4 linked regions of the Homo sapiens genome follow. The protein of the gene in region 1 purifies or fractionates together with the protein of each later gene. This does not show direct contact. Each region holds a gene or a part of one and is shown on either strand. Other genes may lie near its edges. The genes, in order: PPME1, PPP4R2, PPP2R2D and ACY1.

What was found.
Region 2: the proteins of PPME1 (region 1) and PPP4R2 purify together in Homo sapiens (affinity purification with mass spectrometry; 5 studies listed by BioGRID and IntAct, with this or other methods). This does not show direct contact.
Region 3: the proteins of PPME1 (region 1) and PPP2R2D purify together in Homo sapiens (affinity purification with mass spectrometry; 6 studies listed by BioGRID and IntAct, with this or other methods). This does not show direct contact.
Region 4: the proteins of PPME1 (region 1) and ACY1 purify together in Homo sapiens (affinity purification with mass spectrometry; 4 studies listed by BioGRID and IntAct, with this or other methods). This does not show direct contact.

The regions. Positions count from the first base shown.
Region 1 is NC_000011.10:74,250,491-74,256,720, forward strand, and holds the end of PPME1 (protein phosphatase methylesterase 1), read left to right. Parts: intron 1-463; coding exon 464-528; coding exon of another isoform or gene 529-768; exon of another isoform or gene 769-1,140; intron 1,141-1,157; coding exon 1,158-1,225; intron 1,226-1,923; exon of another isoform or gene 1,924-2,062; intron 2,063-3,001; coding exon 3,002-3,020; 3' UTR 3,021-4,213; downstream 4,214-6,230. UniProt on the Homo sapiens protein: Demethylates proteins that have been reversibly carboxymethylated. Demethylates PPP2CB (in vitro) and PPP2CA. Binding to PPP2CA displaces the manganese ion and inactivates the enzyme.
Region 2 is NC_000003.12:73,062,811-73,072,013, forward strand, and holds the end of PPP4R2 (serine/threonine-protein phosphatase 4 regulatory subunit 2), read left to right. Parts: coding exon of another isoform or gene 1-90; exon of another isoform or gene 91-527; intron 528-862; coding exon 863-937; intron 938-1,192; coding exon 1,193-1,336; intron 1,337-2,041; coding exon 2,042-2,331; intron 2,332-2,586; coding exon 2,587-2,912; 3' UTR 2,913-6,388; downstream 6,389-9,203. Other genes in the region: EBLN2 (endogenous Bornavirus-like nucleoprotein 2), read left to right, coding at 1-90. UniProt on the Homo sapiens protein: Regulatory subunit of serine/threonine-protein phosphatase 4 (PP4). May regulate the activity of PPP4C at centrosomal microtubule organizing centers.
Region 3 is NC_000010.11:131,895,655-131,904,865, forward strand, and holds the start of PPP2R2D (serine/threonine-protein phosphatase 2A 55 kDa regulatory subunit B delta isoform), read left to right. Parts: upstream 1-5,353; 5' UTR 5,354-5,494; coding exon 5,495-5,501; intron 5,502-5,583; coding exon 5,584-5,676; intron 5,677-9,211. UniProt on the Homo sapiens protein: Substrate-recognition subunit of protein phosphatase 2A (PP2A) that plays a key role in cell cycle by controlling mitosis entry and exit. Involved in chromosome clustering during late mitosis by mediating dephosphorylation of MKI67.
Region 4 is NC_000003.12:51,985,874-51,991,351, forward strand, and holds the end of ACY1 (aminoacylase-1), read left to right. Parts: coding exon 1-73; intron 74-381; coding exon 382-458; intron 459-541; coding exon 542-631; intron 632-731; coding exon 732-788; intron 789-1,114; coding exon 1,115-1,188; intron 1,189-1,273; coding exon 1,274-1,323; intron 1,324-1,435; coding exon 1,436-1,580; intron 1,581-1,682; coding exon 1,683-1,751; intron 1,752-2,650; coding exon 2,651-2,730; intron 2,731-2,892; coding exon 2,893-2,953; intron 2,954-3,037; coding exon 3,038-3,202; 3' UTR 3,203-3,324; downstream 3,325-5,478. Other genes in the region: ABHD14A-ACY1 readthrough (NMD candidate), read left to right, coding at 1-73, 382-458, 542-631, 732-788, 1,115-1,188, 1,274-1,323, 1,436-1,580, 1,683-1,751 and 3 more. UniProt on the Homo sapiens protein: Catalyzes the hydrolysis of N-acetylated amino acids to acetate and free amino acids.

The sequences.
Region 1 (6,230 bases):
ATAAGCACCATGCCAAGCTTCTTGTATTCCAAGCCATTTCAAGCCTTCCTTCCTTCCTGGTTCCCTCTTGGATTGTGAAGTTCCCTTTCTTATGCTCTTACAGCCCCATGTAGCCAGTTTTATCATAGGAATGACATGCTGCATTAAAATGTTGGTTTTTGTGTTTTACTCCCCTACTGGACTGTAAATCCCCTGAGGACAAGAACTGTTTCTTCTATGTGTCTCTGGCCCACAGTAAATGTACACTAAATAGGACAGAAGGAAAAAGTGAAGGGAAATGATTGGCGCAAGGTTACAATTACTTGTATTACCATCCTCAGCAAGACTTGATAATTGGGTCCAGAGTATTGAGGTGAGGTTGGAAATGGGGAGGTAGGTCCTGGGCTCCTGGAATGACCTATGAGGCTGCATAAGAGAGGGCTCTTTTAGTCGCTGAAGTTGCCTTGCTTTGATTCCTCTCCAGGGAAGTTCCAGATGCAGGTCCTACCCCAGTGTGGCCATGCAGTCCATGAGGATGCCCCTGACAAGGTGAGTCTGGTGCTCAGTGACTGTAAAAGGACAACTGTGAGAATAACCCTGGATGTCACAGAAGACAAGTCTCTGAGTCTCAGCCTGCATTGCCTGCAGCAGCTGCTGTGGAGCCTATGCAGATGCAGTTCCACCAGCTCTCCAACTTCTCCCTGGCAGCTGCTTATGGTATTGGTTTTGTGTATATGTGCTGAGGAGCTACTGACACTCTGCTATTTCATCCCAGGGCCCTGTGGTTAAGATCTTAAGCTCTACTTCTCCAATACCCCCAAAAGCCAGAGATGGAAGAGGGATGATTAGGGTAGAAACTGCTCCCTAAACCACAGGCACAGTTAGGAATTAATATGGGCTCCTCCTGTGAGAAAACACCATTCTGTAACTCTGAGGGCACACATAAGCCCTTCACGTCATTCCTCTTGAGCTCTATGGAGCTATCCCTGGCAAGGATAGTGGGGAGGAGTCTTCTAGCTCTGCTAGGGAGGGCCTAGGTCCTTTTAATTTCAAGCCACTCAGACCTGTGGGTGGGATGAGGGCACCGTAGAGCCTAACCATCTAACAGTAGCTCACAGCCCAAGGCTAAGCCCCATCACTAACCTTTATATGGCCTGGAATATCTCTCCCATTTCCAGGTAGCTGAAGCTGTTGCCACTTTCCTGATCCGGCACAGGTTTGCAGAACCCATCGGTGGATTCCAGTGGTAAGGCGGGTACAAGGGTTTAAGAACCCAGCAGTGCTGGCCGAATCTGACAAGCAGACACTTGTAGGACTGTAAATATCTCTGCCTTACCCCTGCCTGGTTTGGTCACCATGCCTTTCTTCCTCCTCCTCAGTGAAGAGCCTGGCATGTCTGTTTCTACAAAGCCATGGTTGGTTGTTTCTTTGTGCTGTGCTCCCACGGGTTGATGCTGAGGCTGTGATTAAATTGTGCCTAGTCTCACTCCCCACTGTGATGTGCATTTCTTCTTGAGGTGCCCCTTTGAGGAGGCTGGGATAGGAATCAGTCCTTTTCCAGGCTCCTAGAGAAGTTTTCTTTGGCTTCTCCTGCCCTGCTGCCAAGGAAAGCTGGGCAGGCCATGGAGCAGGGCTTTTTTTTTTTTTTTTTTTTCTTGGCACAGTCTTGGTTCACTGCAACCTCTGCCACCTGGGCTCAAGTGATCCAGTGCCTCAGTCTCCCGAGTAGCTGGGATCACAGGCGTACGCCACCGTACCCGGCTAATTTTGTTTTTTTTTTTGTTTTTTTTTTTTTTTAGTAAAGATGGTGGTTTCTCCATGTTGGCCAGGCTGGTCTTGAACTCCTGGCCTCAAGTGATCCACCCGCATCGGCCTCCTAAAGTGTTGGGATTATAGGGATTATAGGCACAAGCCACCGCGCCTGGCCTAGAGCAGGGTTTTCTACAGTGTTGCACAGTGTCTTCCCATGGCCAGCTACTAAGCAAGCTGGGAATGGAATGGGTGCCTCTGCCAGGCTTGCTTCCCCTCCCTTTCCGAAGCTGGCAGAATATTAGCCACTCTGCAGGGGTGATCCTGGAAGCTCTAGAGCAGGGTTTTCAACCTCAGCTTTATTGACATTTTGAGGTGGATAATTCTTCATTGTGGGGACTGTCCTGTGCATTGTAGGATGCTTAGCAGTATCCCTGGCTTTTACCCACCTGATAACAGTAGTACCCCTCCCACACACGGTTTTGACAAACAGAAATGTCTCCAGATTTTACCAAATGCCTCAAGGGAGGCAAAAATTCCCCCTCTATTGGTCTAGAGGAAGAAACAGGGCCAGGTCTCTCATCCTAGGTAGCTCTTCATCTGTTTAGGGAAACACAGTTGGGCTCTTTGTTGAGGAAGAAGAGAGGCATGTTGACCAAACCAGGTGGTATTGACCCACCTCAGCCAGCTCCTAGTCTGTACTGCAGAAGGCCTTTGATCCTCAGAGAGCCCACAACCCTCATGAGGAGTCATTCCTACCATTGAAAAGTCTCTTCTCTGATTTTGGTGAGGGCTTGGGGAAACTTGTTCCCCACTCTCAGAAAGTTTGCAGAAGAAATATTAAGAAAAGGAAATGGCTTCTGCGTTAGAGAACTCTGAATTCCAGGGCCTGGGAGATGAGAGTGACAGGGCAGGGTAAGCACTGGAGATGATGGCAAGACCTTGGGACAGTGAACCACAGAAGCGACACCCCTATGCTGAGCCATCCCTCTAACAACTGACCATTCATGGATCCCAGGAACCAACAATAAAGACTTAATTTCTCTTACTAAACAGTGTTTGGCTGGGGCCCTTCGACCATTTGGAGCCTTGGGCAAATGAGCAGCACACTGAGAGCAGACCCTGGGTCCAGCTCTGGTCAGGGCTGTGAAATGGGTCAGATTTGCCAGGGCCTTGGTGGTCATTAGGGAGGGCTTCCTGGAGGATACAGATAAGCAAGGGAAAGCTATTGATAGTTACATTTGTTTTTCCTTCTCTTTCTGTTCTTCCACAGTGTGTTTCCTGGCTGTTAGTGACCTGCTGTCCACCCCTCCTCAACATCGAGCTCTGTTGTAAATACGTCGCACCAGAGGCCACTGTGATGCCACTGTCTCCTCTCCATCCCGCCCAGCCATGTGACACTGGCTCCCGGTAGACGGGCACCCCGAGATGTACCAACCTTTTCATGTATTCTGCCAAAAGCATTGTTTTCCAGGGCCCTTGACCAACATCGGCTTCCCCAGTCCAGGGCTCCCCTGCTCCTTTCCCTTCCCTGTACTGGGGTAGCTCCTGCCTGCTCTCCCTGCGTTGCCTAGGGTAAAGCCTCCAGATTTGCCATACTGAGCCCCTCTTCCTAGCATCAGGCGATACATCTGAGTTCAAATGTCTTCCCAGGCTCAGGGACCTCCATTCCTTGAGATTGTCTTGGCATGGCCCAGCCCTGCCTCATGGGATGGACAATGCATGGGGTGGTCTTTATTTTTCCCTTTCAAATAAAACACTAGTCAGGTACCGTTTTATCCCAGTCGTACTCTTCCAGGTTTGGAAGACCCAGAGAGGCCAAGATCCCATCCTTAGCCATAGCGAGCGGTGGTGGTGGATAGCATCACAAGAAACGAGCCTGAAAATCAGGTCCAGCCGGTCCAAGCACATGGCCTCCCATCTGGGAGAGCCCACTGTCCCACTCCCACATGTCTGGGCACCTGCCCTGGGCTGAGGCCAGGCTGCTCCAGGGGCCTCCTGCGCCCTCACCTGCCACAGAGCAACCCAGGTTAAATACAGCCCATGCACAAAGCCACAGGCCAAAGCCTATGGAATTGTTTTTAATCATCAAATTTAACCATTTTCATAACTGGTTCCTGGAGGTGTGCAGTGCCCCCTTGCCTCTTCAAACCTACAGCTTCTCTTTGCCATTTGTGGATTTCACATCACTCCACACAGAAACATTACAGCCTGGCATCCCCAGTCTTTGCCTTCTTCCAGCTGCCTCGACACAGCACTGTGGCCTGTCCCTATTGCCCAGGCACGCCATTTCCAAGGGCAGGAAGGGGCAGTGTCCTGAAGCCCATCTTTTCTGTGACTGTCTTAGGTGATGTGTAGCCCCCTCCACCTTTCCACTCAACAACCTCCCACCCCTGTCCTGCTGCATGGTCCGGAGTCTGGGACCTACTTTGTTTTTTGTTATTTATGACCTTGTTTAAAGAAAATAAATATCTCCCAACCTTTATTGGTCTGGTCTTTCTCTGTGGAATTGTCCTTATTTCTGCTGATATGGGGGCAGGGGACAGCTCATTGGACTTAGTTGTCATGGAACTCCAGAAACCCCTTTCCCTATAGCCCTTCAGTGTGTTATGCTCTGCCTGTCCCCTGATCCAGAATGCCCAGTGGGATGGTCAGAGCCACCCTCCTCTGCAGCCAGGATGGGATTCCAGTCCCATCTCTCCTAATTATCGGCTGTGTCGACTTTGGTCCAGAGCAGGACAATCTGTGCACTGTCCACATGATCTCAGTCACCATAGCTTCACTTATGTGAAACTTCATCTACAACCCAAATCATTTCCTGAGCTCTGAACAGGTAGGCCCAGGTTCCTCCTCCTGTCTCTCCCAGATGACCAAAAGCCACTTCATATTGACTGTTTCTAAAGCTGAATCCACCTTCCCCCGGAAACTTGCTCCCCATGAAACTTGCTCTTCCTCCAGCGTTTCCTGGCTCAATAAGTGATAGGTATCACCATCTCTCCAGTTGTCCAAACCAGATACCCACAGTGAATGACTTCTCTTACACCCACCTCAGGTCTACCACCAAATCCTGTTCATCCTCTTTTCCGTGTCCCCCTCTTTTCCATCCCACAGCCAGTGCCCTAGCTTAGGCCTCATCATCTCTCACTTTGATCACTTCAGTACCTTTGCTGCCCTCCTCCCCCCTGGGTGGTCCTCCACACTGTTGGAGGCTTCCTCCTAGCAGGCTCTGGGGCCAGAGTGTCTAAATTAGAACCCAAGCCCCACCCCTTACACTGTATGGTATGGCAACAAACTTTCTCTCTGCTGTAGTTCACTCATCTGAAAAATGGAGATAAACCGTACCTACCCCACAGGGTCTTGAGGATTATACAAGTTAAACTAGGTTAACTGGCTTTCTCACTAACTGGCACATGGTAAGACATTTAATAAGTAGTTCCTGTTATGACACTGTTACATTGTTATAGTTAGGAACTTTATTCAGGGCCGTCTGTGGGCCAATAGCATCAGTATCTCTTGGAAGCTCGTTAGAGAACTGTGTCCCCATGTCAGACCTATTGAATCAGAACTGATCTGCATTTTAACAAGTGCATCAATGTCTGAAAATTTCTTGTCTAGTTGATGATGAAATATTTCAGGGTAGTTCATGAGCTCCCTAGTAGAGGAGAGAAGTTCCTTATGTGTGGTTTGATTTCTCTCACCGGAACACTTTGCGGGTGCCTTTGCTGAGCTATGTGCCCTCTTGTCCACAAGAGGGCAGCATGATCACTTGGTTTTCAGGGGCACTCAGGTTCATCAGGTTCACTCAAATTTTGAATGTCATCTAATTCACTTGACACACATCTCATTTAATCTTCACAGCAACTCTATGAGGTAGGTGCTGTTATGTTCCTTTTACAGGTAGGCAGACAGGTCCAAATTCTACAGCTTGGAAGTGACTGTCAGAATTCAAAACTGGCTTGCTTCCACATCATTCTGTTCCTGCATGCTACAAGGGACCCTGGGCAGAAGTCATTTTGGACCAGATACTTAAAAGAGCAGAAGGAGGATGACCGTGGAGATGAACCCTCTTTACACTTGATGGAGGAGGCTGAGAATGAATGAAATGCTCGTGAGCTTTGTGGTTGGTTGTGTTTTAGGCACTTTCATCTCCATTCATCCTTTGTATCCTTGTGAAGTACAGGCACTATCCCCAATTTAAAGGCAAGGAAGCAAAAGCTCAGACATTTGAAATGGCTTGCCCACAGCCACGGCCAGAGTGGCAGCATCTTTGTCTTCTGATTCCAAGTCTACTGAGCATTCCATTACACCCCAGAAGAGAAGGGACCATTCATGTGTTCACTTAACATGGCTTTAACGAGCACCTACTATGTGTTGGCCATAACAGTGTCCTTGCAGAGCCTACAGATCAGCATGTATGAACTCAGGAAGGGAATAAAGAAGGAGATCCCAGAATCCTTGAATGAAGGATTGCCACAAAGCCAGAAGGAGCATGTTTGGGACAA
Region 2 (9,203 bases), on another chromosome or scaffold:
AGCTCAAGACCATGGGTTGGAGAATTAATGTTCACACTTCTATTTGGAGACTTTGAATCCCCTCTACACAAGCTACGCAAGTCAAGTTAGTTGCCAAGAAAGCACAGATGACAACCTATTAATGCTGTGAGAATGTTTCTAGATCAGTGCATGGATGGCTCCATTGCTCTACGGGCCATTGTGTCTGAGATCCCAGTCTTTGAGGAGAAAAAAAACAATGGTTAAAAAGGCATTGGGGAAATATTTTGAGTTTGGGGGTGTACTTTGCCACCCCATTATTGGGGAGCTGTCACCACGAATGTTCCCAAACTTAGCAACAGCGGCAAACTACTGGGCCAAGATGAGCAACCCCACATTTTTGGGATTTAAAGCTCCTGATGTTATACCAGGATCAACCATCACACTCCCTTTGCTTCAAATGGCATCTACCCCGTAAGATCTTGAGGGGGGAGTGTTGGGTGGAATCATAGATCCATGCACTCCTAACATGAACTAATTCTCATTATTTAAAAAAAAAAAAAAAAAAAAAAGTCCAGGTGTGGTGGCTTAACGCCTGTAATCCCAGCACTTTGGGAGGCCGAGGTGGGCCGATCACTTGAGGTCATGAGTTTGAGGCTAGCCTGGCCAACATGGCAAAACCCCGTCTCTACTAAAAATAAAAAAAATAGCTGCGCATGGCATCACACGTCTGTCATCCCAGCTACTTGGGAGGCTGAGGCATAAGAATTGCTTGAACCTGGGAAGTGGAGGTTGCAGTGAGCTGAGATTGCACCACTGCACTCCATTCCACCTTGGGTGACAGAGCCAGACTCCATCTAAAAAAAAATTAAGTCATCCACAAGTGTATTTTCTTTTCTTATAGGAAAAACAATTCCAATAGTTTAAATCGAATGAATGGTGTTATGTTTCCTGGAAATTCACCAAGCTATACTGAGAGGTGAGATTCTAGATTTTTAATACCTACAGAGTTTGCATTGTCCTGATTTTGAGTAGCAGGCTTAGTGTACTTTTTAAAAATTGGGCATTTTATGGACACCATAGGATGAACTACATAGAATTAGTTAATTTGGTAAGGCATGGGCCTGAAAACAAAGTTGCAGCAAATACTTCTGTGATGTATTCACATCAACATACCTTAAGAGGGATGACTTTTTATAAAAATAGGAAATGATGTTCATTTATCTTATTATAGGTCTAATATAAATGGGCCTGGGACACCCAGGCCACTTAATCGACCAAAGGTTTCTTTGTCAGCCCCCATGACAACAAATGGGTTGCCTGAGAGCACAGACAGCAAAGAGGCAAATTTGCAGCAAAATGAGGAGAAAAATCACAGGTTTGTATGTTTTATATTTAAAAACAGTGTTTTTATTAAAAGTTAAAGTTAACATTTAATCAGTACTTATCACTTACTATTTATAAGTTCTGAGGGACAGAACAAGGTTTTCATGCGGTTTATAGGAGCACTGGCTTCTCTTTGCAGCTGTAGCAAATGTTGAAGGTGGACATAGACAAGACTTAAAACTGCTAATTTGTGGAGACTGTTTATGTAGGGTCTAAAAGTAACGTAGATATGATGATCCATTTCATTTGTTGTTTCTGAAAGTTACTTGAAAAGAAATGATCTTTATAAATAAGTTGATTTTTGTGAGTCGTTTCTCATTGTAGTTCATAAAAGGACACCTTTTGTTTATATCTTCAAATTTTCTGTATCACATTAAGGGAAGGAAGACTAAATGAGGGAGAGGACTTAAGAGAGTATGTCCGTATGGAAGACTTGCGGGTTTATTGTAGGAGAATATTTAACTTACTGGAGAATTGCACAGAAAGGTCATATAGCTTTTCTGAGTCCTACTGGGAATTATTCATCAAACAGTTTAGTTTACCTTGAAATTATTCTCTTGTGTTTTTCTTTGTTCAGGTGTTATAATTTAACTTTGACACTGAAATACAATTTAAAACATTATTTAACCTTAAAAATGGGGATGTAGAAGATGGGGAAAATAATCTTATTAATGACACTTTAAAAAAACATTTACAGTGACTCTTCGACCTCTGAATCAGAAGTTTCCTCAGTGAGCCCTTTGAAAAATAAACATCCAGATGAAGATGCTGTGGAAGCTGAGGGGCATGAGGTAAAAAGACTCAGGTTTGACAAAGAAGGTGAAGTCAGAGAAACAGCCAGTCAAACGACTTCCAGCGAAATTTCTTCAGTTATGGTAGGAGAAACAGAAGCATCATCTTCATCTCAGGATAAAGACAAAGATAGCCGTTGTACCCGGCAGCACTGTACAGAAGAGGATGAAGAAGAGGATGAAGAGGAAGAAGAAGGTATTTAGAGACCATCTGTAAAAGGGTGGAGTAAGGAGATCCTCAAATTCTTGTACTTCATTTTTTTCGTGAAAGAATTTTACGTAATGGAACTCCTTATAATGCTGATGTTGGGCTTTTCTCCCACCTGTATGTAGTTGCTGCTGAATTTCAGGGGATGTGATTTGAACTATAGAATATCAGAATTCATGAAACTTAACTGTGGAGGTATTTTGAAAATACAATTTAACTACAACAACATTTGCTTATTTTTAGAGTCTTTTATGACATCAAGAGAAATGATCCCAGAAAGAAAAAATCAAGAAAAAGAATCTGATGATGCCTTAACTGTGAATGAAGAGACTTCTGAGGAAAATAATCAAATGGAGGAATCTGATGTGTCTCAAGCTGAGAAAGATTTGCTACATTCTGAAGGTAGTGAAAACGAAGGCCCTGTAAGTAGTAGTTCTTCTGACTGCCGTGAAACAGAAGAATTAGTAGGATCCAATTCCAGTAAAACTGGAGAGATTCTTTCAGAATCATCCATGGAAAATGATGACGAAGCCACAGAAGTCACCGATGAACCAATGGAACAAGACTAACTATTTAGAAACATTTAGATGCAGTATTTTACATACAGTTCTGGTTTTAACACTGTATAAAACTTTTGTGTAATAAAATGGACCTTTAGTTTTACAAGAGAAGCAGGTTGTAAAATAAAGTACTTTATGGATAATTCCTGAAAGAGTTGTACATGTAAGAACTGTGAATATCAGCTCCTCTGGGTCCTGCTTACCTTACCGCTGACTTTTCTTTCTTTCTTTTTTTGGTCTGGGCAAATCAGTGGTTTGTGTATAGATTTTTTTTTTTTTTTAATTTAGGATTGAAGTTTTTAAACTGGAAAGTAATTACAATTTTGAAAAGTTTTTTGAGATTATCACATTTAGTTTATACATATGCAAGAAGCTTTTTGTCTTGTCTCTTTCTGATAGCTCTAGCAGTTTTCATATTTTGGTCATAGTTTCAACATTTTAACATGTGAATTATAGGGTTTCATGCTGGTTTCCAGATTTTATTGTTTGGCTACGTACAATGGAACTTTAAGTCATATATACATACATATATATATATATATATATATAATTCTAAGGGGGGAAATGTTATATTTTTCTGTTTCTATAAGAGATGAATACAGTGGATACTTTTTCTATTGGTAATGATTGAGTTCACCTCTTTCAGAAGACATTTTCTTTCTCTTCTGAGTAATTGAAATAAAATCTGGCCCTTGTGAAACCCTGGAAATCTTAAGTCTGTTGAAATACCAGGTTAAACACATTCCAAGAGATCTGTTCAAACTCAAATTCTTTTGTATACTTCTGAGGTGCCTGAGAAAAAGACTTCATTATTTATGAGAAAATATGCTTTATCTTGGAAATTGTGTTCAAATGTTAGCTTACTATTTTGTAGAATGAATGTTTATGAAGCTGATATGAGACCATCTCAGAAGAACCAAGTAGGTTCCTTGACCTTTTGCTTGCTTTTCTGAACATTGTGAATATTACACATGTCTTTCTAAATTATTCTAGGGTATGCAAATGTCAATGGTATGAAACACCACTGTACTGGAAGAATTAATATATTACTTTAGTATGTACCTGAGCTAAATGACTGAAGCTTTAGGGGTGCATAGAAACCACCATAATTTGTATGACATTTTGAAGTGAATTAAATATTTTTGAACATGCTTCTTCGACAGCCAGTGTTATATTTTTCAGATCAACACAAAGCACAATGATTACTCGAAATTCAGTATTTTCAAATTTACATATTTAAAGTCATGCAAGCTGTAACTTCCCTGTCAAAATTACTGGCTGCCAAATTTATACCTGTTTCTTCAGCTGTACCTTTTGATATTTAAAGTTTTTAAATTTCTGTAAAGTAGATTTTGTAGAATGTAATGTGTTCACTGCCTTTGTGAAGCGGTATATAATTGTATAATTTCTGTGTGTAAACTGAATGCTTGGGCTTTCAATACAGTATTCATATAAAGCAATAAATATTAATGTTATGAAATATTTGACTACATTTTTATCAAAATATGAAAGAATCCCCCCTTTTTTAGTTTCAGATACCTGAACTACACAGATGAGCTTCTAAAACTGATGCAAACAGTTTCTGACACTGTATAATATGCTTTTGGGTGATTTGGGGGGCAACCACAAGTTTTGCGTTTTGACTACTTAAATCATCATGGCTATAAATACCAAAACGATTTGGATCCATTTATGTTTGTAGGATAATATACTACTGACTGACTTGACTGTCAGGTTCACAACAGCTAGATGATATATTTATGACTATGTCTAATAGTTGAAATAAAATCTGAATATTGATTTACTATACCCAAGAGGGGAGAAAAATTAACCATTGTAAATTTTTAAAAAATTTTTCAAAAATGTTAAAATGAGGCAAATTTAAGTTTACAAATTTTGAAATTTTCTTTTGAATATTTATGAAATTGTCAGTAAACTTACCTAAGATCCTGTGACCTTTTGATATTTTTTATTTTAATTGTAGTGCCATGGACCATTTGTAAACAAATTGATTTACTTTTGTTGGTTGTAAGTTGAAGATTTAGCATTATGACTTTGAGGTCTGTGGTTTTATTTGTAAACTTGCAATTGCTATATTTGCAAGGGCAAATGTATTTCTTTATTAAATAAAGTACAATAATGGTGAATGTACCAAAATGACATCACTTAACTCTATGAGAGATCTGCATTTTAATCTATAGTTTAATAGTTTTAATATTTATTAGATATTCATATGTTGATCATAGATCAAACTTGTTGCTGTTTATACAGATAATTGTAGAATGCTCATGGAATATCTTTAGGGTAGGTGGAATACTTCTGTAGTTAAATTGGGAAACCTTGTTCAGCTGGTTTTAGATATTGATGGCCATTTGGAAGTAAATTTCCGCAGGTATTCATAGGTGCACTTAACACAGACTTTGCTTAATGAAAATGTCAGTTCTAATAGTAACTGATTCACTTCTGAACAGAAGTGATTTTAGGCATATTTCTTAACATATATCAAGCAAAGTCCTGTTAAAAGATCTAAATGAAGAATGGAGACCTCAGTGATTAAAGATATTTTGTTTCTGACCTTGAGCAGATTGCTTACCTGTTCTCTAGACTATAACCCAACATGTAAAAAAAATTTGAAGATGGTGATGAGGAAAGTGAGATATATATATATATATGTATTATGTTTCTAGCACTTTTCCCTTTTAAAAAGTGAAAATATCCTTGTACATTTTTGAAAAATATATTTTCAGTTCTGAAAAATGTAGCAGAAGTAGTGAAAATGTCATATTTTAAATGTTGATTATTAGATAAATTTAACCTGCTTAGGGTTTATTGTAACTACACCTTTCAGACGTGTGTTTTGGAGTAGTGGAATTGCCAGCCAGGCCCTGTGGCTTGGAAAGGCATCCCAGAAATCCTCGGCCAGAAGGTGTGGCTTGTTAAAGCATTGAGATTCAGAGTATTTTGTTTTGCCGGTGTAGATAGGCATGTATTTATGCATTTTTGCATTTGTAAAATCAACTTTTCAAATAATGTAAATGTAATATACTAGTTTACTTAAAGGTACTTGGGCAGAATCTAAAGCTGCTACAATGTTTGATTATGAAAAAAATGTAACATGGTAAGGATGAAAATGCAACTTACAAAACCAAAGGAATTAAAAATTTTCGGTAGTGTTTCAAATTGTCTTCTGAACAGGAATTTAACATTGGTTTTGATGAAGGTGAGGGTCAGTTCTCAAGATTTGTGCTAATCATAAAATGAATGAATGCAAAACACCTTGTAATTTCATATGGAATTATAAAAATTAGGTTTGCTGGGTTTTGGCCTAATAAGAGTGCTAGTATGTATTGGTTAGACTACATCTTACTATTTCACATTTTAAAAATCAGTACACTCTTCAGGATTTTCTTTTATTTCAACTTGGAGCCTAGATTACTTTGCCAAATGTATTATTTTCATAATGCAATAAAATATAAATTAGAATATTTCTATGTGTGTAATTATTTTATGTGCCATAATGGTTTATTTGCCCTGCTGCCACTCCGACTCCCCCCCAACCCCCCCAACCCCCCCCGACCCTGCGCCACCACCCACCTCAAATCCTTAACTGAGGAAACTCAATGTGTGACTTTGTTACAGCCCTGTTTCTTACATGGTGACAAAGTGTTCCAGCAGGACTTGACAGTTGTGGTTCTTTGCCAGGCAAGTCATGCTGATTGTCAACAAAATCCAGATTTAAATAAGTCTCCACTGGTATAATTTGGCACTAGCTTACATGTATATATTTACAATATTTGTGTTAATCATTTTAAAGGCTGGGCGCAGTGGCTCACGCCTGTAATCCCAGCACTTGAGGCCAAGGCAGGTAGATCTCTTGAGGCCAGAAGTTCGAGACCAGCCTGGCCAACATGATGAAACCCCGTCTCTACTAAAAATAACAAAAATTAGCCAGGTGTGGTGGTGGGCACCTGTAATCCCGGCTACTCAGGAGGCTGAGGCAGGAGAATTGCTTGAACCTGGGAGGCAGAGGTTGCAGTGAGCCGAGATCACACCACTGCACTCCAGCCTGGGCGACAGATCGAGAGTCCGTCTTTAAAAATAAAAAAAATCATTTTTGAAATCCCACCTTCAGGCAACTACATGGTAAGAAGTGTAGAATTACCTGAAGTGGAGAGGAGGGTTCTGTTTTCAACTGTGGGTCTCCTTTCCTATGCTTCTTTTTGTTTTTGTTTTTGGGACGGAATCTTCCTCCGTTGCCCAGGCTGGAGTGCAGTGGTATGATCTCGGTCTCGGCTCACTGGAACCTCTGCCTCCCGGGTTCAAACAATTCTCCTGCCTCAGCCTCCTGAGTAGCTAGGACTACAGGCATGCACCACCATGCCCGTCTCATTTTTGTATATATATGTTTTTCGTAGAGATGGGGTTTCACAGTGTTGGCCAGGGTGGTCTTGAACTCCTGACATCAGGTGATCTGCCCGCCTCAGCCTCCCACAGTGCTGGGATTACAGACATGAGCCACCATGACTGGCCCTCTAGGCATATTATCGCACAGTAGCTACAGTAGAGGGTAAGATCTGTGGCTCTGAACTAAGGAGAGTACTAGTCGGTGTGTTTCTAACCTTAAGAATGTCTTAGTTTTCAGCTTCTCATATTTGATCTCTTACCCCCACTTAATTTTGTTTACTAAATAGTATAACTAGTACGTAGTTCAGGGCTAATGATGGGAAGACTGATTTTTCCACTGGCTAGGAATAAACTGCGTGAACTCTTCCCTATTTAAAATGAAGAGTATGCAATTCCCTTTTATTCTTCAGAACGTTTTAAGTTTAAACTTTAGCAGTAGTTTGTCATCTTTAGGTTTTGTTTGTACATTTTCAGAGTTTTTCTTCCCATAACTAAAAGTAATGAATATTCCAAAATGCCAGCAATTCCCTGTATACTAGTCTGCCATCTCCACTGTTTTACTCATCTTTGTAACCTCACAGGCTAGCCCCATGCTTGACAAGTGATAACAAAATTGAAAGCAAGTGGTAGGTCCACAGCCCACTTTAGATTCCTATGTTTTACCGATTCTGTGTCTACTTTGCCCACTTCAAGTGTGCTAAGGTCACCCCTGCAACTTTGCTACTAGGTTTGTGGGATTGGGAGCAGTACATTCTGTTGAATGCCCTTGCCAGGAAATCAGTGGGCAGTTGGATGGTATCACCAGAAAGTGAGCATCTTAACAAAGGAAATTTCCGTGAATGAGACCAGCTACCCCCTGCCTATAGAAAGCACAATAGCACACCCGCCTCTTACAGGGGATAGGTGCTGCTACAGGAGGATATATCATTAAATTACCCAAGTCCTGCTTTAGACATGGTATAATGGGACTTGATATTCAGTAATACTTGCAGCAAGAAATTTTTGCAGTTGAGTAGGCTTGTGAGACTTTTGATGCTGCCTATAATCGCTGAGAATTTGAAAGATAAATATGGGTTCAGTATTCTGTCTTCATTTTGGATGATAACTGTTTTTCTTTGCATTTCATGCAATGCTACAGAGTGGAAGGGTAAGCTTAGTTGGTGACTAACAATTCCCATGTGTATTTAAGAATGCATGCAGTTTCCCACTTTCAACCTGAAAACGTTACTTGATTGGAATTCAGAATACAGTTTCTCATGTAAATTATTTAAAATGTGGCTAACTTTGAGGCTATTATACAAGAAGCTGTTTAGGCCTTAATGTTGAGTGTATTACTGTGGTTAAATGTAGCAATTGTAACATTTCTATTGAAATATGTGGGTCAGTTTCCACTGTGGGTTTGTCGAAAATGCCTCTCCCACAGCTTTGGCAGTGCAAGTAAAGACTGAAGGTGGAAGTGTGTTAAGATCCAGCAGCTCGCCAAATATGTCAGTTATTTTAAAGTCAGGGATTTAGCATAAACTAAATATATCTCAATATTGGGTGATTCAAACTGCAATAGAATTTGCAGTGTCTTGGGATCATTATGATGGTGGTGTTTTGAATATTAGAAGTGTATCCAGATATAGGAGGTAGGGAATATTTTCCAGTATATTTCATAAGTTCCCTCTAAAAAACAACAGCACAGAAAGATTTCCAGGTGTTTTGAGTATTCATTTGGAATTTCATGAAATGATGACTATCAGATTTCACTTATCCCAACAAAGGGAGTTAAGAAGAGGTAGACAAAACATACAGATGGAGAAAAGCATGTCTGTTGTTAGGTAGCAACTTTCATGAATTGTGTATTTGGGGGGCTAAAAAGAGTAGATTTAGTCCAATTTCATATTTGAGGAA
Region 3 (9,211 bases), on another chromosome or scaffold:
GGAGGAGATCTTCAAGACTTTGTCCAAGGAGGAAGATACCAAAAAATAAAAGCTCCCCCGTTGTCCGTACATACTGGCCTCCGTGATTACATAGATCAGCCATTAAAATAAAACAATCCTTTAAAAAAATCTGTTTTATTGAGGTATCATTCACATACAATAAAATGGGTCCACTTTAAGTGTCTTTTTCAATGAGTCTTGACAACCATTCGTGCTGCATTAACAGCTGCGGCCATCAGGATGCAGAACACTTCCATCAACCCAGGGAGTTCTTTCCCACTCTCTCCAGTCCATCCCCCACCCTCTCCAGTCAATCCCCACACTCGTGCCCCATGCCGTTTTTTTTGAGATGGAGTCTTGCTCTGTCACCAGGCTGGAGTGCAGTGGCGCGATCTCGGCTCACTGCAACCTCCGCCTCCCAGGTTAAAGCAATTCTCCTGCCTCAGCCTCCTGAGTAGCTGGGATTACAGGCGTGCGCCACCACACCTGGCTAATTTTTGTGTTTTTAGTAGAGATGGGGTTTCACCATGTTGGTCAGGCTGGTCTCAAACTCCTGACCTTGTGATCTGCCCACCTCGGCCTCCCAAAGTGCTGGGATTACAGGCGTGAGCCACCACGCCCAGCCCCTGTGCCATTTTTAAAATCACTGTAGAGCAGTCTCACCTGTTCTAGAACTTCAGGATTCTTCAGAGAAACCGTGTATGGAATGAGCTTTATTTTCAGGAACTCACTCACACAATTGTGGAGGCTGACAAGTTCAAAAACAGAGGGTGCACAGGGTGAGCAGGGCAGGCCGGCAGGCTAGCTCAGGCAAGGGCTGATACAGCAGCCTGGAGGCAGAATTTGTTCTCCAAGAAACCTCAGTATTTGTTCTGAAGGCCTTTGATTGATTGGATGAGGCTCACTCATATTATCAAGGGTAATCTCCTTTTCTCAAAGTCAACTGCCTGTGGGTGTTAACCACATCCACGAAACACCCTCGTGGCAATACTTGGCTTAGTTCTGATGAAATAACTACATACTATACCCTCGCTACATTGACACATGAGACTAAGTATGATAAAATAAAGGGGCGCATGCAGCTTGCACGCCTCCGTGTCTGGCTCCTTTCATTTTCGTAATATTTCGGGGACTCATTTGGGACTGCTGTTTGTATCAGTAGTAGCTCATGCCTTTTAGTTACTGAACAGTACTGCCTTCTATGATTACAATAGGCTAGATTCTAATACACACCAGGCATTTTCAATTCAGCTGTGAGATCTGAAAAACAATTTTAAAAAATAAAATTGCTGTCAATACTCAGAAACTTGTAAACACCAATTAGAATCCAAACAGAGAAATTCATTGAGCTATTAGGTTGGCGCAAAAGTCATTGTGGTTTAGCCAAATATTTTAAGTTTTTAGCATCATAAGAAGAATAGTTAAAAATCTCTTTTTAAAAAATAGTTAAAAATCTCTTGCTGGTCAGCTGATGCACAGTGGGACGCAGGGAAGGCAGCCCCCCAGTCTCAGGAATATGTTACTTTTGTGGCTATATCTTGTTTTTAGTTTAATTTAATGGGAGCTAATGAACCAGAAAATACATTCTAAACAAAAACTAATTATCTTGTCATCACTTCAAAAGACATATTTAACACACATTAAAGCAGTTACATAGGAACTAAGAATAAAATCCTACATCCCCCACTGGCTGAACGAACACCCCTGTGGCCAGGGGGGGCCCCAGGAAAACCTCAACACTGAGGCTATAATGGGGGATGGGAGGTCAGACAGGCCTCCTGATACCCCCGCCCTTTTGTGGTTTGGACACAACAGACCAGCGTTAACGTTAAACTAGAGACCATAAGACTGACAGAACGGACTCTGTGGCAGTAAGATGCCAAATCATAAACAGGGCCTAAGGCCGTGCGGGGGGAGGGTGAAGCCACGCACCGCACACTTACAGAGAAAACGTCGTTCCCACTGCTGTTGGGTTTTCCTTCCCTCCAGCAGCTAAATAAGCACTGGCCTTGATAGGAGCAACATTAAGCAACTGCAGCTCCACCAGCCACTAAGTGACCCCCAGCCCTGCTCCAGCAGCCGTAACTACAGCTTTCATTGGACAGAAGACTGTAACTGTCTCCTGATAAGAAACCACCGACCTTGGACTGGTTCTGGCCGGTTTACAGAGGTTGCACATCTGCATGCCTTCCTGTCCTGAAAAGACCTCTTGAGGTACAGGGCCTAGTCCTAATTTACTTATTTATTTATTTATTTATTTATTTAGAGACGGAGTCTCGCTCTGTCGCCCAGGCTGGAGTGTAACGGCACGATCTCGGCTCACTGCAACCTCTGCTTCCCAGGTTGGAGGGATTCTCCTGTCTCAGCCTCCCAAGTAGCTAGGACTACAGACATACGGGCGCCACCACGCCCAGCTAATTTTTGTATTTTTAGTAGACAGGGGGTTTCGCCATGTTAGCCAGGCTGATCTCGAACTCCTGACCTCAGGTAACCTGCCAGACTTGGCCTCCCAAAGTGCTGGGATTACAGTCGTAATATATTCAAATGTTTAGTCTCCCCGACAGAGTGAGATTGGGTCCTATGTTACATAATACACGTGTCAGGAGCCCCTTCCTGAGTATTCATAGCTCCTCCCAAAGCCTGTTGTCTATGTATGTTTAGCCAACCCGTTCAGCATAGAGCTCCTGCCCCAACTCCTCCTCCTACGAAGAGCCATCTCCCATCTTGGCCTGGGGGATGGCCACCTTGCTGGCTGTAACCATTTATAAGAAATAAAGTTCCTCTTTTTCTAAATTTATAAATTGTCAGGTTTTTAAGTTAACAAATAAAAGAGATCTGGTCATTAATTCAGGTTTTCAAGTGTCTTCCTGGGCAGATAGGCTAAATCTACATTTTAAAAACAAGATTACAGCCCCATTTTTCTGCTCTTCTTCTCCTCAACAGAGAAGTAGGTATTCACTGCCTCTAGTTCCTCTCCTGCCACTGTCCCCAGAGCCCTCTGCAAACTTGTGATCTGAGTCCATTCCATAGCCACCGCTCCGTCCAAGTCAGTAATGGCCTCCCAGTCCCTACAACCAAATGGTCACTCCTGTATACTCATCACATAGCATCACAGAGCAGCCACTCCCTCCTGTCTTCAGTGGATCCTGGAGATGGGTTCTCCAGGAGCCCACCTCGCAGGCTGCTCACTCATCCTCCACGTCCTCACCCCTTCAGGGCTCTGTCCTTGGTCCTGTCCCCCATCTGTCCTCCCTCCTGAGGTGACCTCACCCAGTTTCCTGACTTGAAATGACCTCTAAATGCTCTCACCTTGATGCTCTGGCTCTGACTTCCCTGTGTGCTCCCAGCCTGTCTGTGCAACAGCACTATGTGTTGACAGCGAACCTCTGGTCGGGCTGCACCGCCCCCACCCAGCTGTGCCTTCTGCTGCAGAAACTCCATCCTTCCAGGTGCTCAGACCACCCGAGAGCAGGCATTCCTAAGTCCCTGCTTTCTCTCACACCGCATCTTTTCCATCAGCAAATCCCAGGGGCTCTGCTGTCGAAGCACTTTTCTCTGAAATCTGACTGGTTCTCACCACCCCACCCCATGTTCACCACTCTATCCTCATCCCCATGCCTGGTCAGCCCAGCTGGCCACCTGATTGGTCTCCCTGCTTCCCCTCTTTGGGTCCCCACAAGCTATTCTCAGCAGAGCATCCAAAAGCCCAAGTCCATCACGATCGTCTTCTGTTCATGAGCCCATCTCATTCAGAGTCCAAGTCCCCTAAATGGCCTGCCCACTGTCCATCCTCCTCCACTTACCTCCCTGCCTTGACTCCAACCCCTGGCCTCCCCTCCACTCACTCTGCACCCACGCAGCTTCTGGCTGCCTCCTGCCCATGCCAGGCATGGCCCTCCTTCCTGTCCTGGCACTTGGTGGTCTCCCCTTCCTGGCCAAGCTTTCCTAGACGTCTGCATGGTTTGCTCTTTATCCTTGAGTCTTCTCCAGTCACCCCGTGCAAGACTCCAACTCTCCCCATACACATTTCCTTCTTCCCTGATTTTTCTCTCCAGCTCCGACTTATTATGTATTTATTTCCTTATTGTCTGTCTCCCCCACTGAAAGGTAAGCTCTACCAGGGCTGAGATTTCTCTGCTCTGTTAACCTCTCACCCCCAGGGCTGTGGAGTGTGCCGCACGTGGCAGGAGCTGTCAATAAATAATATTAATGGAGTGGACGAATGTTCCTGATTTGCAGCGACTGTCTTTTAGTGGTGCAATACCATCAGTGCCCACCGCAGCTACCCTGAAAGAAGTTCTGATTCCGGACATCAATCCCATAGGGACAGTCCCCCTGATGATAGCTCGACTTCAGATTTTTCAACTTTACGACGGGTAGATTGGGTATTAGATGCATTTTTGACTTAGGAAGGGCTTATTTGCGGGGAGGGTAGCCCCACTGTAAGTCGAGGAGCACCCATGATCGCTCAGTATGCCAGAGAAAACCACCCGCAAATGAAACGATCGGCCCTGTTTCCCTAAGACTGCACTGGGAGCTCCAAGAACCCCTAAGGTAGCCATCTGGTGAGCAACGGTGCGCTCCGAAAGGGAGGTGGACAGGATTGGGAGACCGAGGCCGGCAGATGGCTCGAGCCCAGGAGTTCGAGACCAGCCTGAGCAACATAGACCCCCGTCTCTACAAAAAATTTAAAAATCAGCGAGCCTGGCGGCGCGTGCCTGTGCTCGCAGCTACTTCCGAGGCTGAAGCAGTAGGATGGATTGAGCCCAGGAGGTCGAGGCTTTTAGGGAGTCGAGATCGCGCCCCCGCACTCCAGCCCGGGGAACAGAGCGAGACTCCGCGTCGGGGGCAGTGGGCGGGAGGCAGCGCTCAGGTACGGCGCGCTCAGGTGAGGCCGGCCCACATGCCCGCCCACCGCCGCCAAGCGCGTCCTCCATTGGCGGTTCCACGGAGAACCCACGTTTCCATTGGCCGATGCGGGATGGGGGCGTGTCCGGCCAAGCGGCGCCCTGAAGGCGTGTCCGGCCGCAGCTTAGGCTCTCCGGGAGTCCCCGGAGAGTAGGGGCGGCCGGCGGCGCTAGTCTTCTGGGGAGCGCCGGGTGCACACCGGACCACTGCGGGAGGCCTAGGGCCGAGGGCCGAGGAGCTGGCCTGCGCCCGGCGACCCCGGCTTCCCTCCGCAGTCGCCCAGGCGTCCCTTCCCCCCTACAGCCGAGCGGCGCCGGGCGCAGGCGCATTGGGCGCCCCCGGCAGCCCCCGCGGCCCGCCCCGTCCGCTGCCCGTCCGAGGAGGCGGAGGGCGATGACGTCATCGAGCGGGGCGACGGGCATTGGGCGCCATTTTGAAAAGGGAAAAAAATCCCTCCCCGGCGGCGGCGGCGGCGGCGGCGGCGCCGGCGGTGGTGGCGGCCCCGGGGCTGAGCGCTCGGCTGCAGCGGCGCGGAGGCCGTCTCCCTGGTCTGCCGCGGTCCCCGCCCGTCCCGCCGCCGGCTGCCATGGCAGGTGAGGGGTCTGCGCGGGCCGGCGGGGACCACGGGGGCGGGCGGGGGCCGCGGCCGGCCTGACCGCCCCGTTGTGTTTGCAGGAGCCGGAGGCGGCGGCTGCCCCGCGGGCGGCAACGACTTCCAGTGGTGCTTCTCGCAGGTCAAGGGGGCCATCGACGAGGACGTGGCCGAAGGTGAGCCCCGCGCCGCGCCCCGCCCCGGGACCCTCGCGGACAGCTCCCAGCCCGGCCGCGCGCGGCCTCCGGGCCCCAAGCGTCCGTGGAAGGCAGGCAGGAGGATGGGGGCCGGGCGGGGCAGGGGCCAGGGGCCGAGCTGGGGGCCGTGATCGGGGGGCGGCCGTCCTCTGTCCGCTGTCCCGGCCCGCGGGGCACGGGCGGAGGCGTCGGGCCCGCGGCGGGACTTATGTAAGTCACCAAGGTCACGGGCGGCCGGGTCCTCCGAACCCAGCGCCTGGGGCTGCCTCCTGCCCGGGGCGGAACCGAAGCCCGGGGCTGCCTCCTGCCTGGGGCGGAACTGAGGAGACCGCGGCGGAGCCGGGGACGGGAACGGAGTCCATATCGTGCGCTCGGGCAGCGCGGCACAATGGCCCAGAGGCTGGGAACGCGCCTAGGGCTGGGTCGGGGCCTCGGCCCCCACCAGGCTCTGCGTTTCATCGGCGGTGCGCTCTTGAGCGAGCTGGTTGCCTCGGCTCCCTGATTCTTAAGGTCTGCTTTCTGCGGTTCTAAAATCCTTGAATTTTACTGTGAGGTACTGCTACTTTCTCTACTGATATATTTTAAGGTCTCTATTCCAGATTTTAGTCTTGAACTTCATGGTATTACTTGAAGTTCACTGGTCTTTTCCTTAAATCATACTCTCAAATTGGCCCAGGCACAAAGTTTTAGGGTGGTGGGAGGGAACTGGGAAGTGCCTCCCACCCCAGCTTCCCATGAAGCTTACCTGTCACCTTAAAGTTAAAAAGCTATGTAGCTTTCCTTTTTCACCGTTGAATGGAGAACTTGGTCGAGTCTTAGAAGTTTGATTAATATTTCAGATTCAGAGTCATAGTGACTTTTTTGTTGTTGTTCATACATCTTACTGAACATTGTAAACCTTTAACCTTTTCTTAAAAATGATTGGTGTTTGCACCAAATACACCTTCCCTGCCTCAAGTTACTAAAAGCCCCTTGTCAGACGTCCTGTTCACTTCCCTCCATCTCGGCCCCCCCAACCCCGTGAACTTTTACTCCCTCTTCCCTACCCTGTACCTCTCCCTGGCAGTGTCTGGTTTGGCACATGACCCCTGAGGACATCTGGAGATTCTGCGCCCCCTGGGACAAACAGGGCCTAGGTTATTAAGCAGGTGAAACTGGGCTCTAAGAAATGCGTAATATATATGGTTTGAGATTAAAACTAGGTGCATTTTATGTGATCTAAAAAGTTTATTGATTTTATTTCTTTAAAATGCATTACTTTTTTTGTTTGATTTTGCATATGCTAAGCAAGTGACAGTTCAGCCTTACTCAAGTGTGATTTCTGTCGCAAGTAAAGCAAAACTTGTTTGGGAGTAGGAAAGTGAGAGGGCTTAATGCTTGCCTTAATTTCTGTTAACTCTTTATTTTGTTTTTTGGAGACAGGGTCTCACTTTGTAGCCCAGGCTGGATGGAGTGCAGTGGTGCGATCTGGGCTCACTGCAACCTCTGCCTCCTAGGCTCAAGCGATTCGCCCACCTCAGTCTCTGAAGTAGCTAGGACCACACACACGCGTGCACCACCACACCAGGCTAATTTTTGTATTGTTGTAGGGGATTTCGCCATGTTGCCCAGGCTGGTCTTGAACTCCTGGGCTCAAGTGGTCTGCCCACGTCAGTCTCCCAAGGTGCTGAGATTATAGGCGTGAGCCACCGCACCTGCCTGGTTTCTTTACTTAAAAAAAAAAAAATTATTGATAAGCTGAATGAATTAAAATTTAAGTATAACTAAGGTAGTATATTTTAAATGTGACTGTACACATATGAAAATAGTATTCTTTCTTTAAAAAAAATCTTGGGCCGGGTGTTGTGGCTCATGCCTATAATTCCAGCACTTTGGGAGGCCAAGGTGGACAGATCACTTGAGGTCAGGAGTTTGAGACCAGCCTGGCCAACACAGTGAAACCCCGTCTCTGCTAAAAATACAGAAGTTAGCCGGGCGTGGTGGCACATGCATGTAATCCCAGCTACCTGGGAGGCTGAGGCAGGAGAATCACTTGAACCCGGGTGGTGGAGGTTGCAGTGAGTGGAGATCGTGCCATTGCCCTCCAGCCTGGACAATAGAACAAGGCTCCATCTCAAAAAAAAAAAAAAAAAAAAAAAATCTTGACAAATACTTTGTTCTCTGAATTAAACTGATGGGAACTTTTTGCAGTTTTAAATCCCTATTTTAAGTTAAATTTTGAGTAAATCCAAAAGTTTGGTATTTCGAGTTGTCGTGGTTTCTTTTGTAACATTGCTTTGTGGTAATTATCTGCATGTGTTTTGGTTATTCTGTGTATTCAGAGCTGTCTATTTTAATCCATGTATGCTTTGGCCATAGTAACCCATCCAGATTAACACATTTATAAGTCACCATCGATTTGTCCCATAGTTGTGATACCGTTGCTTTGTATTAACACCAGAGAGTCAGTGATGATGAAGGGAAGTGTAGTCGTTAGTCACCAGGGATTGCTGAGCAGCAAGGATCAAGAAGCTGGTCATGCCCAAACGCAACCTTGAGGGAGAGATGTTGGTGAGAGATAAGAGATGGGTGGCTGGGTACGGTGACTCACACCTGTAACCCCAGCACTCTGGGAGGCTGAGGCGGGTGGATCACTTGAGGTCAGGAGTTTGAGACTAGCCTGGCCAATATGGCGAAACCCCATCTCTACTAAAAATACAAAAATTAGCCAGGCGTGGCAGGGCCGGCCTGTAATTCCAGCTCCTCAGGAGACTGAGACAGGAGGATTGCTTAAACCTGGGAGGTGGAGGTTGCAGTGAGGCGAGATGGTGCCATTGCACTCCAGCCTGGGCGTCAGAGCGAGACTCCGTCTCAAAAAAAAAAAAAAAAGGAGAGAGATGGCCGGGCGCAGTGGCTCACGCTTGTAATCCCAGCACTTTGGGAGGCCGAGGCAGGCAGATCACAAGGTCAGGAGATCGAGACCATCCTGGCTAACACGGTGAAACCCCGTCTCTACTAAAAATACAAAAATTAGCCGGGTGTGATGGCGGGCGCCTGCAGTCCCAGCTACTTGGGAGGCTGAGGCAGGAGAATGGCATGAACCCGGGAGGCAGAGCTTGCAGTGAGCCGAGATCGTGCCACTGCACTCCAGCCTGGGCGACAGAGCAAGACTTTGTCTCAAAAAAAAAAAGAGAGATGGGCAGTTCACAGGGGTTTTTATCGTGCACTGCTGCTCAGGCTGTAGAACTTAAGGTATAGCAGATTTTGTTTGTTTAGATTTGTGGCTTGTGAGGCATTTTGTTCTTGAAGGTTTTGTTCTGGGCCAAGTTCAGCTCTGTAGAGCTTTACTACAGCCCTGCACTCTGGCCGTCTTTCTGCCCTCTCTGCAATGGGTAAGGAGAAGGAGCCTTAGAGATTAAGGCCTGGGTCCTCTCCTGACTTCAGTGGGGTGATGCCCAGTGCACAGGAAGTGGTGCAGGGCTAGGAGTAGGCACTCCTGACTTTGGAGGTCATGAAGTGAGTGACATAGAAAAGC
Region 4 (5,478 bases), on another chromosome or scaffold:
TTGAGGCCTTCAAGGATTCTGAGGGCTACATCTATGCCAGGGGTGCCCAGGACATGAAGTGCGTCAGCATCCAGTGAGTGTCCTCCATTCCTACTCCTCCACAATGTCCCCACTGGTCCAGTGGATTGAAGCAGGACCTGAGGGGGTGATTGGAGAAACTCAAGGCCAAGGAACACCGTGACCTCTTGGACAGGAACTACTGCCATGACCATTGCATGGATAGGGAGATTCAGACCAGAGAGGGGCAGGGACTTTCTGGAGTCCCTATCAGGGTGTGGCAGGGTAAAGTCCAGGACACAGGACTCCAGCCTGCTGGCCCTGCCTGTGGGGCCAGCCTGCGCATCTGGTGGCTCCCCCAGCACCTGGCTTATGCCCCCTCAGGTACCTGGAAGCTGTGAGGAGGCTGAAGGTGGAGGGCCACCGGTTCCCCAGAACCATCCACATGACCTTTGTGCCTGGTAGGAGTGGCTCAGATACCTTTGGGAAAGGGGAGGGTGGGGCGGGGCAGCCTCCTCATCTCACGTCCCTGCTGCTTTTACAGATGAGGAGGTTGGGGGTCACCAAGGCATGGAGCTGTTCGTGCAGCGGCCTGAGTTCCACGCCCTGAGGGCAGGCTTTGCCCTGGATGAGGGTGAGCAGGTTGGCAAGCCAATGAGCAGCCAGGCAGGGAGTAGGAGGCTGCTAGTGGGGACTGAGCTGCTCCACCCTCTGAACCCCCTTTCCCTCCTCAGGCATAGCCAATCCCACTGATGCCTTCACTGTCTTTTATAGTGAGCGGAGTCCCTGGTGTAAGTATGAGCTTGGAGGGAGGGCTCACTCTACAGGCGGGAGGCTAGGCCAGAAAGGGCACGGTCCTATGCAGGGTTGCACAGCAAAGTTGAGGCCTGAGAAGGCCTTGAACCCAGGGCCTCTACCTCCCAGCTCTTTCCTATCTGAGCTTCTCTGAGGGCAAGCCCTGAATGGGCAGAAACCAGCTGTATGCTACGGGCCCTGAGTGGGGACAGGACCCTGCCAGAGGAGCCTGGAATGAGGGGGAGACCTGGGCCCACCCCAGGCTGATTGTGTCTCCAGCCCCTCAGGCTGAAGACACTGCCTTCCCCCTACACCTCCCCAGGGGTGCGGGTTACCAGCACTGGGAGGCCAGGCCATGCCTCACGCTTCATGGAGGACACAGCAGCAGAGAAGCTGGTACGTGGCACCCCAGGAGGGAGTCTGGGAGTTCAGGAGGCTCTATCCTGAGGCCACTGTCCCATTTAACCTCATATTCTCATAGCACAAGGTTGTAAACTCCATCCTGGCATTCCGGGAGAAGGAATGGCAGAGGTGAGGCAGCCTGGGAGGCAGTGGGGTGGCTCTGGGAGGCGGTACCACAGAGGATAGAGTCTGAGCCACCTCTTTTATCTGTTGCTGCCGCTACCCTGCCCCCACACCACAGGCTGCAGTCAAACCCCCACCTGAAAGAGGGGTCCGTGACCTCCGTGAACCTGACTAAGCTAGAGGGTGGCGTGGCCTATAACGTGATACCTGCCACCATGAGCGCCAGCTTTGACTTCCGTGTGGCACCGGATGTGGACTTCAAGGTGCCACCTCCACCTGGGTTTGGAGGAGGGATCCTGGGTCCTCAGTCTTGTCCTAGAGGCCTCTGGAAAGCCTGAAGGATCAGCTCGTCTCCCTTCTCTTAGGCTTTTGAGGAGCAGCTGCAGAGCTGGTGCCAGGCAGCTGGCGAGGGGGTCACCCTAGAGTTTGCTCAGGTATGGACTTGGGACATGTGATGGGAGAGTGTGGGAGCCGGGGGAGACCCAAGTGTGCAACAGTGGAGTGTGTGCTTGGTGTGTCTGCATATGTCTGGGCATTTCTTTATCTGTGACAGACACATTTTATTCCAACAAGCATTCATTGTAGAGGCCACTGTGGGTGCTGGGGAATGCTGTGGGGAGTAAAATTAGGCACAGTTCATGCCCTTGTATGGTGAAACGGGGAGATATAAATCAAACATTTATGTGATATTACTTTTTTCTGAGAGAATCTCACTCCGTCACCCAGGCTGCAGTGCAGTGGCACAATCTCGGCTCACCTCCGCCTCCCGGGTTCAAGCAATTCTTGTGCCTCAGCCTCCAGAGTAGTTGGGATTACAGGCACCTGCCACCACGCCCAGCTAATTTTTGCATTTTTAGTAGAGACAGTGTTTCACCATGTTGGCCAGGCTTGTCTCGAACTCCTGGCCTCAAGTGATCCACCCACCTTGGCCTCGCAAAATGCTGGGATTACAGGCATGAGCCACTGCGCCCAGCCGTACTTTCATATAACCCATGTGGTACAGGAAAGGGTGGCCCCTTGCACTCTGAAAACCTGTAACTGGAGTATCCAACTAGTCTGAGAGGTCTGGGGGAGCCATCTTGAGGAAGGGGCACTTGGGCTAGGATCTGAAGGATGGACAGGAGGTAAGTAGACGGAGGGTGGGAAGGTCCCAGACCTAGGACATTTGAGGGGCTGAAAGAGGACCTGTGGCTGGACTGGCTACCCAGATGTCTGGGTAGGTGAAGGAGTGGGGGTGGGGAGGTGTTATGTACTAGGCACAGCCCACTCTATGGGAAATAGGGCAAGATGCCCAGGCCCATGTCCTGATCCTGCCATTCTTCCTGTCCCTCAGAAGTGGATGCACCCCCAAGTGACACCTACTGATGACTCAAACCCTTGGTGGGCAGCTTTTAGCCGGGTCTGCAAGGATATGTGAGCACGCTGGCCAGCTCTCCTCACAGCCCAGCCCCCTACTCCTCTCCTTCCTGCTGCCCCCTCCCTTCTCCCTCCTTCTCCCACCTCTTTCCCACCTTCCTTTGCCCCTTCAATTCTTCGCTTTCTCCCTCCCCATTCATCAGGCTCTTTCTCCTACAGGAACCTCACTCTGGAGCCTGAGATCATGCCTGCTGCCACTGACAACCGCTATATCCGCGCGGTGAGCCACTTGCATATAGTGCCTGGGCAGTGGACTGGGCCTGAGTGCTGGCTTTTCCCTAACGGCTCTTCCTCACCCCTGCAGGTGGGGGTCCCAGCTCTAGGCTTCTCACCCATGAACCGCACACCTGTGCTGCTGCACGACCACGATGAACGGCTGCATGAGGCTGTGTTCCTCCGTGGGGTGGACATATATACACGCCTGCTGCCTGCCCTTGCCAGTGTGCCTGCCCTGCCCAGTGACAGCTGAGCCCTGGAACTCCTAAACCTTTGCCCCTGGGGCTTCCATCCCAACCAGTGCCAAGGACCTCCTCTTCCCCCTTCCAAATAATAAAGTCTATGGACAGGGCTGTCTCTGAAGTACTAACACAAGGACACTCGTGGAGCAAGAATTTTCCTTTTCCTGGGGACATGTTACCATCTCCATTTCACAGATGAGGAAACTGAGCCTGGCTGTTAGCACTTCCCCACTACCCCACACTGCTCTGTGCCCCTTGACACAGCACACCCATTCAGTACCATCCAGCCATGTCTGTGCCTAGCAAGAAAGGGCCACAGTTCCTATTTGAGTGGCCACCATACTTAGTTCTGACCTATCAGGGATTCCATTCCCATTAAAGAGGGATACTAAGGACCTCAGGAACCACTCCCATCTTCCTGGGTGTACATCTGGGATCCTGAGACAGTACCAGAATAGCACCAGCTGGGCCCCTGCTAGATGAGGGGCAGGCAGAGGGCCAACGGTGACTGCTGGCTCCTGTCAAAACCTGTACACCCTTGTGTTGGCAGCAGGGGCCACAGAGGGGCAGGGTCCCTGGTAGACTAGGTCAGTTCATCTTAGAGGCCTCAGCACCCTGGATCTGTGTGTGCAGAGGCCCAGGAACTGGGCTTTCATCTCAGCCTTGCTAGGACCCCCAGGTAGTACCAAGAGTAAACTATGGCCCCAGTAGCAGAGCCTGATCTAGCCAGATCTGCTCTATCCTGTTCTGACTTCCCTGAGCATGGGGCAGGAGAGACAGGGCTGGGGTGGGATAGTTGGATTTTTTAAGTTTCTAGTTGTAGCCAGAAGTCCAGAGCCTGGCTCTGGGCTGCAGGCTTAGTACTAATAGAAATAACAATCACTCCTGCTCACAGTTGACAAGGAGCCAGGACTTGACTGGCTTTTTTTTTTTTTTTTTTTTTTTTGAGATGGAGTCTTTCTCTGTCGCCCAGGCTGGCGTGCAGTGGCGCGATCTCGGCTCACTGCAAACTCCGCTTCCTGGGTTCACGCCATTCTCCTGCCTCAGTTTCCTGAGTAGTTGGGACTACAGGCCCCCGCCACCACGCCCAGCTTTTTGTATTTTTAGTAGAGACGGGGTTTCACCTCCGCCTCCCAGGTTCAAGGGATTCTCCTGCCTCAGCCTCCCAAGTAGCTGGGACTACATGCGCGTGCCACCACGGCCGGCTAATTTTTGTATTTTTAGTAGAGACGGTTTCACCACGTTGAACAGGATGATTTCGATCTCTTGACCTCAGGGGATCCGCCTGCCTCGGCCTCCCAAAGTGCTGGTGAGAGGTGACAGCGTGCTGGCAGTCCTCACAGCCCTCGCTCGCTCTCCCCGCCTCCTCTGCCTCGGCTCCCACTTTGGTGGCACTTGAGGAGCCCTTCAGCCCACCGCTGCACTGTAGGAACCCCTTTCTGGGCTGGCCAAGGCCAGAGCCGGCTCCCTCAGTTCGCAGGGAGGTGTGGAGGGAGAGGCGCGAGCGGGAACCGGGGCTGCCCGCCGCGCTTGCGGGCCAGCTGGAGTTCCGGGTGGGCGTGGGTTTGGCGGGCCCCGCACTCGCACTCGGAGCAGCCGGCCGGCCCTGCCGTCCCCGCCGTCCCCGGGCAATGAGGGGCTTAGCACCCGGGCCAGTGGCTGCGGAGGGTGTACTGGGTCCCCCAGCAGTGCCAGGCCACCGGCGCTGCTCTCGATTTCTCACCGGGTCTTAGCTGCCTTCCCGCGGGTCAGGGTTTGGGACCTGCAGCCCACCATGCCTGAGCCTCCCACCCCCTCCACTGGCTCCCGTGCGGCCCCAGCCTCCCCCATGAGCGCCGCCCCCCGCTCCACGGCACCCAGTCCCATCCACCACCCAAGGGCTGAGGAGTGCGGGCTCACGGAGCAGGACTGGCAGGCAGCTCCACCTGCAGCCCCGGTGCGGGATCCACTGGGTGAAGCCAGCTGGGCTCCTGAGTCTGGTGGGGACGTGGAGAACCTTTATGTCTAGCTCAGGGATTGTAAATACACCAATCGGCATTCTGTATCTAGCTCAAGGTTTGTAAACACACCAATCAGCACCCTGTGTCTAGCTCAGGGTTTGTGAATACACCAATGGACACTCTGTATCTAGCTACTCTGGTGGGGCCTTGGAGAACCTTTATGTCTAGCTCAGGGATTGTAAATGCACCAATCAACGCCCTGTCAAAACAGACCACTGGGCTCTACCAATCAGCAGGATGTGGGTGGGGCCAGATAAGAGAATAAAAGCAGGCTGCCGGAGCCAGCA